Linked DNA regions of Homo sapiens. The protein of the gene in region 1 interacts with the protein of each later gene in a biochemical or structural test. Each region holds a gene or a part of one and is shown on either strand. Other genes may lie near its edges.

Region 1 (7,579 bases):
GGAAATATAAGGGAGGCCATTTGTAAATTTCCTTTGGTATTTTATTAAATTTCCTCTAGGCTTCTTATACCAAACCACTTTCTAACACTTGGATTTTTCCAGATAGTATAAGATTCTACTATAGATGCCTGAAATGCCAGAAAGTCAAAGAGAGGTATAATAGCAGAGCTACAGGTACACAGAGTGATCAGAAAACTAGCACTGGGAAAGAGATTACATAAAGCCACCACAATCTGTCTTTCTAAAGAATAGCTGGTCCTGTACAATCAGCCTTTCCATTTTTTTTCATATTTGTCAAAAAATGTCTTTCTTTTCCTTTTAGAGTGTCCCACTGCCTAGGAATATATTAGTATAAATACACAGATATAAAGTAGAACCAAAGTACAACCTGCTCTAACCCCATACCCAAAAATAACCTGAAAAACTTAAAGATACTAAGATATCAATGGAAAGTAGAAAGAAAATCTTGAGAAAATACTATATAAATTCATTCAAAGTGAGTTTTGCTATATTCGGTGCTTTTCTGTGGGGGGCGGGAGGTTAGGGGAGGGAGGTTACTGCTGAAAGTTAGGGATGGTTTGAGCAGGTGAGGGTTAACTATATTGATATATACAAAGTGCTTTGACCAGTGCCTGGTACCTAGTGAGCATTTTAGAAGTTTTTGTTATTATATTATTTGAAATCTAAACAAGCAAGAGAGCAAGAAGAATTTAAGACAACAATAGCCACAAAACCCAATAAACCTACTTATATTTAGGTGCATACTTAGCCTAGACATTTTAAGAATCTAAAAATTCCTGAAGATTATACAATTAATCATAAAGAATTTACACCTTTTTTGTTACATGCTTGTATCTGAAATAATTTCTACACCTGCCCAAAGGCTGCCACTCACTTTGAAATCAAAGGTGTAATTGGTGTAAGGCATCAAGTTATTTTCATAGGCGCTCTTAAGTTGGAAGCCATGTGTGATTCTCCCTTCTGAGCTTCCATTCTTTCCATTGCAGCTGAAGTTCATAAGACACTCATTGTACCTTAGTTCCTTGAAGTCTTTATGGTTGTCAGCTACTCCTCCATTGCTTAAGTATTCCACAACACCTGGTAGAATAAAGAAGAGACACTTCCATTTAGCATTTAGACCTTACACAAGGCTTCACAGCCAAGACTTGTTACCAGGTTAATCCACCAGGCTCAGAGTGGTCTTCTTAGGTTGAGCCATATAAAACTGCCTTTTGTTGTTGTTTAAAAATAAAAAATCAAATACCAGCCATTTCATATGAGTCAAGCAAATGAATCAAAGGATGTTTGCCTATTTCAGAACAAAATATATCAGGAACACTCAAAGATATCCTTAGTTTTCTTAGTGGTTTTTCAGGCTAAAGATGATTTCCAGGACCTAGGATGGCATTCACCAGGAAGGTATTAACCCTAAATGTTTTTGGAAAATTATTCCAAACCACTATCTCTTTAGTATTTCCCCATTCTAAGCAATCAACAACTTTGCGAATATATAAGTAGAGCATATTAATAAAAATAGTTTACAACAAAAACAGATTTTGCATCTTCAACATTTCAATGTCTAATGTCAGCTAGACAATATCATTCTTTATTTTGAGCTAGAGTGAGTTTTCTCAGTCTGACACTATAAAGCATATTATATGCCAGAAGTATACCACTTGGCTAAAAATACAAGGCTGAAGAGAAGAATAGCATTCAGAAAAGTGCACTGCTTCCACTGAATTAGCAAACATGAAAACAGTATCAAAACCCTTATGATGATTAGTGCACTGTTAGAGTCATCTTTCTATTTGTAATAAGGATTGATAGTAAGATATAATGAATGTGTGATAAGCACAATATCAGTATTGTAAATAGCTCAGAAGGCACTATCATTTGTCTAGTATTTGCTACATGCCAGGCACTGTTCTAAGTGCTTTATTCATGTAAATCTCACAATTCTATGAAGTAGATAACATGATTCCCCCCTTGTTAAAAATGAAGAACTAGGCTGGGTGCGGTGGCTCACACCTGTAAAACTCCCAACACTTTGAGAGGCCGAGGTGGGCGGATCCAGCACCTGAGGTCAGGAGTTCGAGACCAGCCTGGCCAACATGGTGAAAGCCTGTCTCTACTAAAAATACAAAAATTAGCTGGGCGTGGTGGCATGCACCTGTAATTCCAGCTACTGGGAGGCTAAGGCAGGAGAATTGCTTGAACCCGGGAGGCAGAGGTTGCAGTCAAGACTGCACCACTGCACTCCAACCTTGGCAACAAGAGCACAACTCTGTCTCAAAAAAAAAAAAAAAAAAAAAAAAAAAAAAAAAGGAAAAATGAGGAACTTAGTCACAGATTGCATAGTTCATAAGTAGCAAAATCAGGATCCAACCATGACAGTCTGGTACCAAAGTCATTTCACTATGTTGTGTTGCCAAATGACAACTAACTGGTTTTAACAAATCAAATACAATGGGAGAAAAACTTGCACTTGAGAGTAATTCAACTTAAGAAAGGATTAAGAAAGGAGCATGTGGTTAAAGTGCCAATTAGGCTAGGGGTTAAAGACAAACACTTATAAACAATGATTTCAGCATTATTTGCTAAGAAGAAAAAGATGTTTTCAAGTTCAGTGACTTTTTTTTAATATTCCAAGTGTAGGCATTTAGGTTATCTTATAGTAACCTTATTGTTACTTACTTTAAATAACTTAAAATAGCCTAGCAGTGATAATATACAAAATTTAGCATATGCTTTGGTATTGGCAAAAGAGTAATAGTCTAATGTTTTCCATTTGATACCTAAAATGCAGAAATTATTTTTATAAAAAGTAAAATGATAAAAGTTCAGACATAAAGTAGTTTAGTGGAGCTCAAGAAGTAATATGAAGCCCTAGGATAATTTTGATCATTCTTCTGTAACTACTAACATTATCCAAATATCATTTAATGAATTCACTTAAAAGTTGCTAACATTATTAAACTAGAGAGCTACACGTAATGAATATTTTCTGGCTGCCCCTTCAGATCACCCTTCTGCAGTACACTCTGTGCCTCAGGCAGCTGATCTTTATTGCATCAACTGCAAATCCCTCCCCGCTCTAGCTTTTGGTTGGATTTGATCAATGGGCAGCCTAGCAGGAGATGAAAGGACAGAAGCAGAGTGAGGTAAGAATATATATTTCCCTGGCTCCCTTCTTTTTGGTTTGCCAGGGATTGACCGCTTCATGCAATTCAAAGCCATCACTCCTATTATGTGGCCCTTTCCTACAACTGTATTTTTTCCAAGTTCTAATGACAGACAGCTCCCACCACTTTCCCTTTTAGGTAGAGGAGTGGTAAAGAGATCTATTACTAAATCCCCTAGTGGCAGAGTACTGCATCATTTATTGCTTTGTTTCCCTTAAACCAGGCAACACCTTTGGTAATAGCTTCTTTATTAAACTCTCTTCTATTACCTTGTGTCCCATCCATGGAATTCTTATGATACATTCCTTAATTTATCTACTCAAAATTTAGGAGCTAGCTGGCCTTTGAACCAAGAGTAAAAGTGAAATTGAAAGCAGTGAGGAAATGATATTATAAATACCTGAATCTGGCAATGAGTTAAGATCTGCACATAGCACCAGCGGGATGGAATTAGGATCTGCAGTTGGGCTTCCAGGCCTACTAGAGGCTTTCTCCAGAATGTTTTTAACCTCTGAGACAAACATCATGGTCTGGATGAGCTTCACATCAGAATACTCTGGGTCCCAATGCATGTGGGCATTTGCCACTATAAGCAGCTGTTTGTCTGCAGCATGAATAGGCTTCATACCTAAATTTAAACATTACAAAAAGAAGACAAAGTTATGCTTTATGTTTGAAGAAATGTGGCATCCTCAGGTTTTCTCAATATGATCCACAGCTACTTCTTTACTCTTTTCCATGAATTTATAACTTCCCTTTTATCTCATAAAGTAATTCTTAGAAGCTAAAGGGCTGAGATTCTGGTAATCCTACTATGGGAATTACTCTCCTAGATCAAGTTGGCAAACTGTAGCCCATGGGCTAAATCTGGCCCACAAATTTGGTATAGCCCTTTAAATATCTGTCATTTAAATAGCACAATAATGTAGTAAGGCAGGTTTTCAGTTGAGTTACCTAAACCTCAATTTAAATTCTTACTACTGTCTAGTACTCATTCACCTTGCATTTCCCAAGCACAACACAGCACAACTGTGATAGGTCAGCAGTAAAGGCAGTAAATTATATTAACCTATATAAGATAAAATAAGAAAGTCATCTGCTACCTGAACAAATTCACACCATATACCGAAATAACATTATTTTTAAAATCAGAATTAGAGAGTAGTGTGCTATAAAAGTCTGGACACGTGGGTTTTAGACTTGGCTTTCTTACTAATTATTTTATGTAGTTTTGGGTCAGTAATTTAACCAGATTCTTTTGGGAAGTGAAATATTCAACTAGAATATCTCTAAGGTTTTTTTTTTATTCCTATAATTCTATGTTTTTTAATTCTGTTAAAATAAACATTAACATAGTACTTTCCAAATGGTAGATGGAATACATTAAGATTTTTGAAAATTAAACATAGTTAACATTTACTGACAGATGTCCATAAAATATTCAAGATATAAAACTATTAATACATATACTCACATTCTGTATGTTAGTAACTCTATAGAGAAATCAACAAGAGCTATAATCTAGAGTATGAATGACATGAGGGATCTCTCACTTTTTACTTTACATACCTTTAAACCATTGGACTATCCGTAAACATACAAATTTAATTTTTCTTTTATAATTTCTATAGAAGCGTCTCAAATTTTTCTATTGGAATATAAGCTTTGGGGGAAAAGACCTAATTTTCTAAGTCTACTAGTTTGTTAAAGTTTCTTTCCAGTCTCACCAAGCTATAATTATCTTCAATGTTGAGAAAATAAGAAACTGAAGTATCTGTTATATCTGACATAGTCACCTTAAAAGCAATTTGATCATAAATGTCTGTAGCCAAATCTTCTAAGCGATCTTCTTTTCCCAGTTTTACAGTGTCACTTTTAGCTATAGATTAAGTATTCACAATATTAAAAATTTTCCCCTTCAAAGAGCCATAAGCACTATATTACTAAATTCCCCTTCTATGAGTACAAGAGATATGTATTTCAGAACGTAAAAGTCTCTACTATTTAGAATTACTCTTCCGCAAATTAAAAGAGGAGTAAAACTCCAAAAGATATTCTCCACAATATCAGAAAAAAAAGTACCAAACTTTGGGAAGAATAAGATTGTAAAGGACATAAAGGTAAATAAAAACGGAGGGGCTAAGAAAAGTAAAAAGTCCAAAATTTCATATCAAAGATTACCTTTGATAAGGAATAAATTGAAGTATGGTGAGAAAAGAAGGTTTGACACATATGCATGGTCTGAATAATTCAAATCAATACTCTAGTCCAAAATAATCTTTTCCTCTACAAAAAGTACAGGGGAAAAAAAGCCCTGATGTAGTCTCACTCCTTTCTTGCTTAAAATGTACTAGTAAACAGTGAGATGCTCAAAGGCAGGCAGTAAGAAGGATAAAAAAGGTCTGTGTATGAAGTACATAATGAGTTTCTGACTCTGAAGGAAGCTATAAATAATCTAAAATGCTAAAGTAAGTACCATGTAGATAAAAGATCCTGCTCTTACCCTGACAATGACTGAGATATAACAAAGAAACTAGAGGAAATGTGCCAAGTCCTTAACCTTAAAGACAAAAGAATCACACTCAAGCTAAAAATATAATTCAAAAAGAGGGCCAAGTCATCATAATTTCTAAATTCAGCCTAACCAAAATATTCCCTATTTAAAAGAACTGTTTGGGATTAATGGCATATTAAAAAAGACTTTACATAGATTATCTGGTAAGTAAAAAAGACTGTGATAGAGAGCACAAAATATCCCAACAAATATATGATGCTTTACACAATGGTGCTATTTTCCTGCCCATCTCCCTTAACTTTCCTCAAAAGAAAATAACTTTGCAATAAATAACGGCAAAATTCTCTTCACTTGTTTTGAGATGGAAAAACTTGGGATGGTGTTTATTTTTAGTAAGAATATTTTACATTGCACTCACCTGCTCCAAATAGTTCTTTGTGGACCTCTAATACCACAGCGACACCAATGTTATCTTTTGTCATCACTCTGTTCAGCATAGCTTCGGATCCATCTGAATTAGCCATCGCCACTTGGTTAAATTCCACTGTATGCTTCTGCACCAATGTAAATCTAAAAGGTACATTATTATAATTTTAGGTACCTAGACTATCATGCTGAAAGATATTAAATGAAAGAAACATGACATGCATTGTCTCCCTTGTCATTTTCTAGCTGCAAGTGACCATGTGATACAGTTCTGGCCACTAAGACACAAGAAGTCTGATTATTGTAAAAAGTTTCTCAGAGGCCCCACCTAACAAAGACAGCATATATATCCCTTCATGCTTTTATACCTTGCCCCTTACAGCTAGTGCTCGGAGAAATAATAACCATCTTGTGACCATGAAATAAGAAGCAGGAAGGCAAAAGCCAACCTTCTAAAAATGGGGAAGCAGCTGAACCAGTTCTGGACTGCCTATTTCTGGACTTCTTGTGTGAGAAAATCACCCTTCCCTCATTTGTTTAAGCTACTGCTAGAATTTTCTGGTATTTAAAGGTGCACACAATCTCAACTAAGTTAATGAGAAAAAGATAAAAAGAATACAATCCACCTACCCTGTTTGTAGTTTTATTTCTACCACATCAAGATATTTGTCAACAAAATACAGGGGCACACCTTTATCTCAGCTAAAGAGTAACTGATTTTTCCATCTGACTTTTACTAGAAAGTTGCAATGGGGTATAAGTATTCTGAGAAACAGATTCTGCAAGATGAAGAAATGACTCTCTCTGTGATTATAGCTTCTGCACTAATAATTTTTTCTTTCCTTCATTAATGCCAAATTATTAAGCATTGTAGAGTTGTAGGATTTAATAGAATTGGTTTAGTGCTGACATTTAATTGCAGTGGGATGTTGGTGAAGTCATTTAACCTTTTTCAGTCTAATTTTATTAATTTGTGAAATATTTATAAGTAATCAAAACCTACTAAATACATTACTTGCACTAGGTGTTCAGTGGAGAGAAGACATAGTCTTGTAACAGATCCCCTCCTCACTTTCCTTCAAGCTTTGAAAACAGAAGCTAGTTTCTGTTTCTTCAAAAATATTGACTTACTATGCCACAGGATGCTGCACTAAATGAAGCAATATTCCCTTCCCTCCTCCAATTCTGAACGTGTCAGCTGGACTGACAAGTGTAAAGGGTCAGTTTATGTGCCTATTTCTAACCCAGAGTGCTTAAAGTGACTATAGTTTCTACCCTCTAAAGAGGTAATCTATAAGCTTAAATATGACAGATGAAAGTTACTAAGGTGAAGAATGGGGTTAAGAGCATCCCAGGTAGAAAATGTGAAAGGTCCTGAGACAGCAAAAAGCACTGCAAGTTTATGTGTTAGAAAAGAATGGAAGGGTATGAAATGATGCTGAAGAGGAGAGATAAA
Region 2 (3,647 bases), on another chromosome or scaffold:
CCTAGCACAGTTCCTTGAAATGATGGAAGGAGCTAATTACTCTTGACTGGGGAAGGAAGTCCAGGGCAAGCTGCCCTCCAGTCTTTGAGGGTGGAAAGCATAGCACCGCAGAGAAGTTGAGGTTCATTAGAGCTGGGAACACACCCAGGGGAGCAGAGCAAGGAGGGATATTTGAAAATGTGTAAATGCCTGAGGCCAGGCGCAGTGGCTCATGCCTGTAATCCCAGCACTTTGGGAGGCTGAGATGGGCAGATCGCTTGAGCTTTGGAATTTGAGACCAGCCTGAGCAACACAGTGAAACCCCATTTCTATTAAAAATACAAAACTTAGCCGGATTCGGTGATAGGTGCCTGTAATCCCAGCTACTTGAGAGGCTGAGGGACGAGAACCGTTTGAGCCTGGGAGGCAGAGGTGACAGTGAACTGATATCCAGAGTGAAACCCTGTCGAAAGAAAAAAAAAAAAAGAAAGAAAAAGAAAGAAAAAAGAAAAAGGAAGAAAGTAGAAAGAGAAAAGGAAAAAAGAAAACAAAGAAAAAACGTGTTAAGTGCCTGTGTTAAAAAGTTTACCCTGACTCTTGGTGGCTCTGCGTGACTAGAAAGCCCCGAGCCATGGGCCCAGCATGGTCAGCTGCAGGTCTGTGCCAGACAAAGGGCAGCATCCAGGCACTGGCAGTCGGGATTAAGACCGAGAAGTAAGGGTGGCTTAGGGAATAGAGCTGTATTTATTTAAGGACTAGGCAAAGATCCAAACCACTTTAAAAAATTTTAAATCAAACACTTTATTTCCACATAACAAGCGCAAAAAACTCCCAAACACTTTAACAATACAATTAACGCAGTTATGAATTATATACTACTCAAAGCCCCAAGGTCAGAAGGTCAATCAGCTTAACGCTCCAAACATTTCCAGACATGGTTTTTCAAAGCTACCTTTGGTTTTTGGAAAAACCAGTATGGAAGTCAATATACATTGAACGCACTGAATAACATTTGCTTATAGTAAGGTGTCCGACAACATTAGCTCACACCTGGCAAGTTGGAGCATGATCTGAAGTCATACACTGAAATCCATACACAGGTTTCGCCCCCGAGCTCCTGCAGGGAGAAGCGAGGGCCGTGAAGGGGGAAGAAAAGGCCAGTCCGGGTGTGGCGTTTCTCGCTTTGTAACAGAGGTATGAGAGTTTAACACTAGTACACTGTCAAGTCATTAAGCTTCATGTTCCACATGGTTTCTTGCTGAGGCTTGAGATGGGCACAAATGGTGGGGAAGATGAAGTCACAGAAGAGTTTTGAGCAACAAGATCCCAAAGATGCTCAGAGAGGGTGGGAAGGAGCAAGCTACAGTTTCCCATTGTTCTCACATTATTTCAGGGTGAAATTGTGATGAGTTCAGATAAAATGTTCAAATATTTGCTTAGATTTTTAATCGGTTGCTCTATGAGAACCCTCATACATAGCAACTTTGAAACTTTCATTATAAAAAAGAGCCTACAAATAAATTCACAAAAAGGAGACAATTAATGTTGAGCAGCCAAAAAGTCATGGTTTATTATATCTGAAGAAATTTCATAATTCAAACACAACCAAACTGTACATTTTACAATCACATTCTATTTGTAAACAGTTAAAAGCCACTGACTTCTTTTGCATCTTAGGACACAAACAGTTAGAATCAAGGCAATGATATGATGGCAAATTCTGTACTGTTAAAATTTTTACCCTTGTTTAGTCTCTCTTCTTTGACTAAGCAAGCATTATAATACCATTTGTGGGCAAAAAAAGGGGGGAGGAAAGAAAGTTTAAAATGGTGTAACTCGTTAGTTTGCAACAACATTTAAAATTTTCTTTATACAACAAACAACTCTGTAAGCCCAATACCTTGGTTACAGTATGCATAGTTACTGATTTCGGCTTTAAGGTACAACAGTTAAACATTAACACAGTCACGAGAGAGCAGAAACATATGGAGCCACTTGATGGGATTACAAAAAATTATTACCTATTGATTATTAGCAAACCATCATCACTCACTAATAAAAAGACAGCATCTGAAAGCAGAATGTCAAACTCCAGCTTTAAGCGTTTTTTTGTTTTTTCTTTTTTTTTGGCAGAGAAAATTCTTTAACAGAGCAATATGTAGTATCAGTGCTAAAAGTTGGGGTTTTTCTTTTTTTCCTCTAAGAAACTACAAGGAATTTTTTTTTTTTTTTTTAAACTGGGGAACTGGTTTTCCTGAGAACCATGCTCTTTGATTTGGGACAGGAATAGAAAAACAAAAGAACATGGCCAAATGCTGCTCCTTTTTCCCAGAGATAGAAAGCATCTTTTAAATCATCCTCCATTTTTTTTTTGTCTTTTACATTTTTTTTAAATGATGGAAGAGTAAACATTTTTTTTTCTCAAAAAACAAACAAAAAAATCTGTAAACAAGAAGGTTCAAAGTGAGAACCTCCAAAACAAAATGGAAAGCCTATTCAAAGTGCAGGGCCCGTCCTGGGTGGCAGGTGGGCTGCAAGTCACAGCTGTGGCCACAGTTTTTCAAACTGCAGAGCGAAATTCTTTAGTTTTACAACATGAAAAAACTGGTGCAACACTTTCATTAATAATCCTAAGTCAGCATCCTAACTTGATCTTTTAAACTCCACGATACCACAATAAGGTAGGCAACATCAAGGCATAGTAGAGAGCGCACGCCTCCTAAGAACACCCTTGAGTAAACATTGACACTGGGACAGCTGCCCCCCATACTGCCGATGAGACGGAGAGAACATCATTCAGTGCAAAGGGAAAAGCTCATACGTTATCAGCCCAAAAAATGGTTTTGCAAGAGAGAAAAAAAGGGGCGGGGGGGGGGGTTGGGGAGGAATAGAAGGAAAAAAAAAAAAAGAATCCAAAGGCTAAACATGATGAATAGACACAAGCGAGCTCATTCTCTACGGTTTAGCATGTATGGCGCTATTTGGGAGTGTAAATAGAGTAGATACCTTTTCACATTATAATATTGGCCTGCATGATTCAAGTATTCAAACTGATATGTTTTGGGGAAAACAAAGTGGAAAATGTGCAGAGAATAGCTGTTCCCACAGGCGGCCCCTGGCTGCAGGCGGCGAGCCCCACTTAGTGCTCCTTTCCCTCGCGTCTGAGGTCCCGGTCGGTGAGTCTGCATCTACACTGTTACATGGACTCTCCACCCCCACCCAGGTGGTCAACAGAAAGAAAAGCGTTAATGGGAGATGGGCTGCTAATTCCTCGGGGGTCGCTGCTGCTTGGGGGACCCCACAGGCTTGTGGAATAATGCGGGGTCCCCCAGAGTGAAGTGCCGTGAAGGTCTCCACAGTTAGTTCCCGACAGCCCAGCACCATTCCAGTGATTGAGATCGGTCCGGCTGGAGAATGAGTGGGAACAGTCGAGGGAGCCCAGCCGGCTCTGGCTGGACCCGAGAGACTGCCAGCCGGGAGAAGGGGTCAGAGACTGGCTTTGTGCAAAGAAACGACTGATCTCCTCTTCACTGGCAAACTCAGCAAGAATAGTAGTGTTCCCCAGTACACACCTAGAGGAGAGAGGCACCGCGGACACGTGAGGACAGCACACCAGGAGGGCTTCATTCACTCACAAGTGAGGGTGCAACTTGTCTCTGCTAGAAAAG

The links.
Region 2: the proteins of CNOT6L (region 1) and TNRC6A form a complex in vitro, tested with the Homo sapiens proteins (one study listed by BioGRID).

What each region holds. Positions count from the first base shown.
Region 1 is NC_000004.12:77,725,272-77,732,850, forward strand, and holds part of CNOT6L (CCR4-NOT transcription complex subunit 6-like), read right to left. Parts: intron 6,268-7,579; coding exon 6,116-6,267; intron 3,811-6,115; coding exon 3,583-3,810; intron 1,099-3,582; coding exon 896-1,098; intron 1-895. UniProt on the Homo sapiens protein: Has 3'-5' poly(A) exoribonuclease activity for synthetic poly(A) RNA substrate.
Region 2 is NC_000016.10:24,823,336-24,826,982, reverse strand, and holds the end of TNRC6A (trinucleotide repeat-containing gene 6A protein), read right to left. Parts: intron 3,552-3,647; coding exon 3,176-3,551; 3' UTR 765-3,175; downstream 1-764.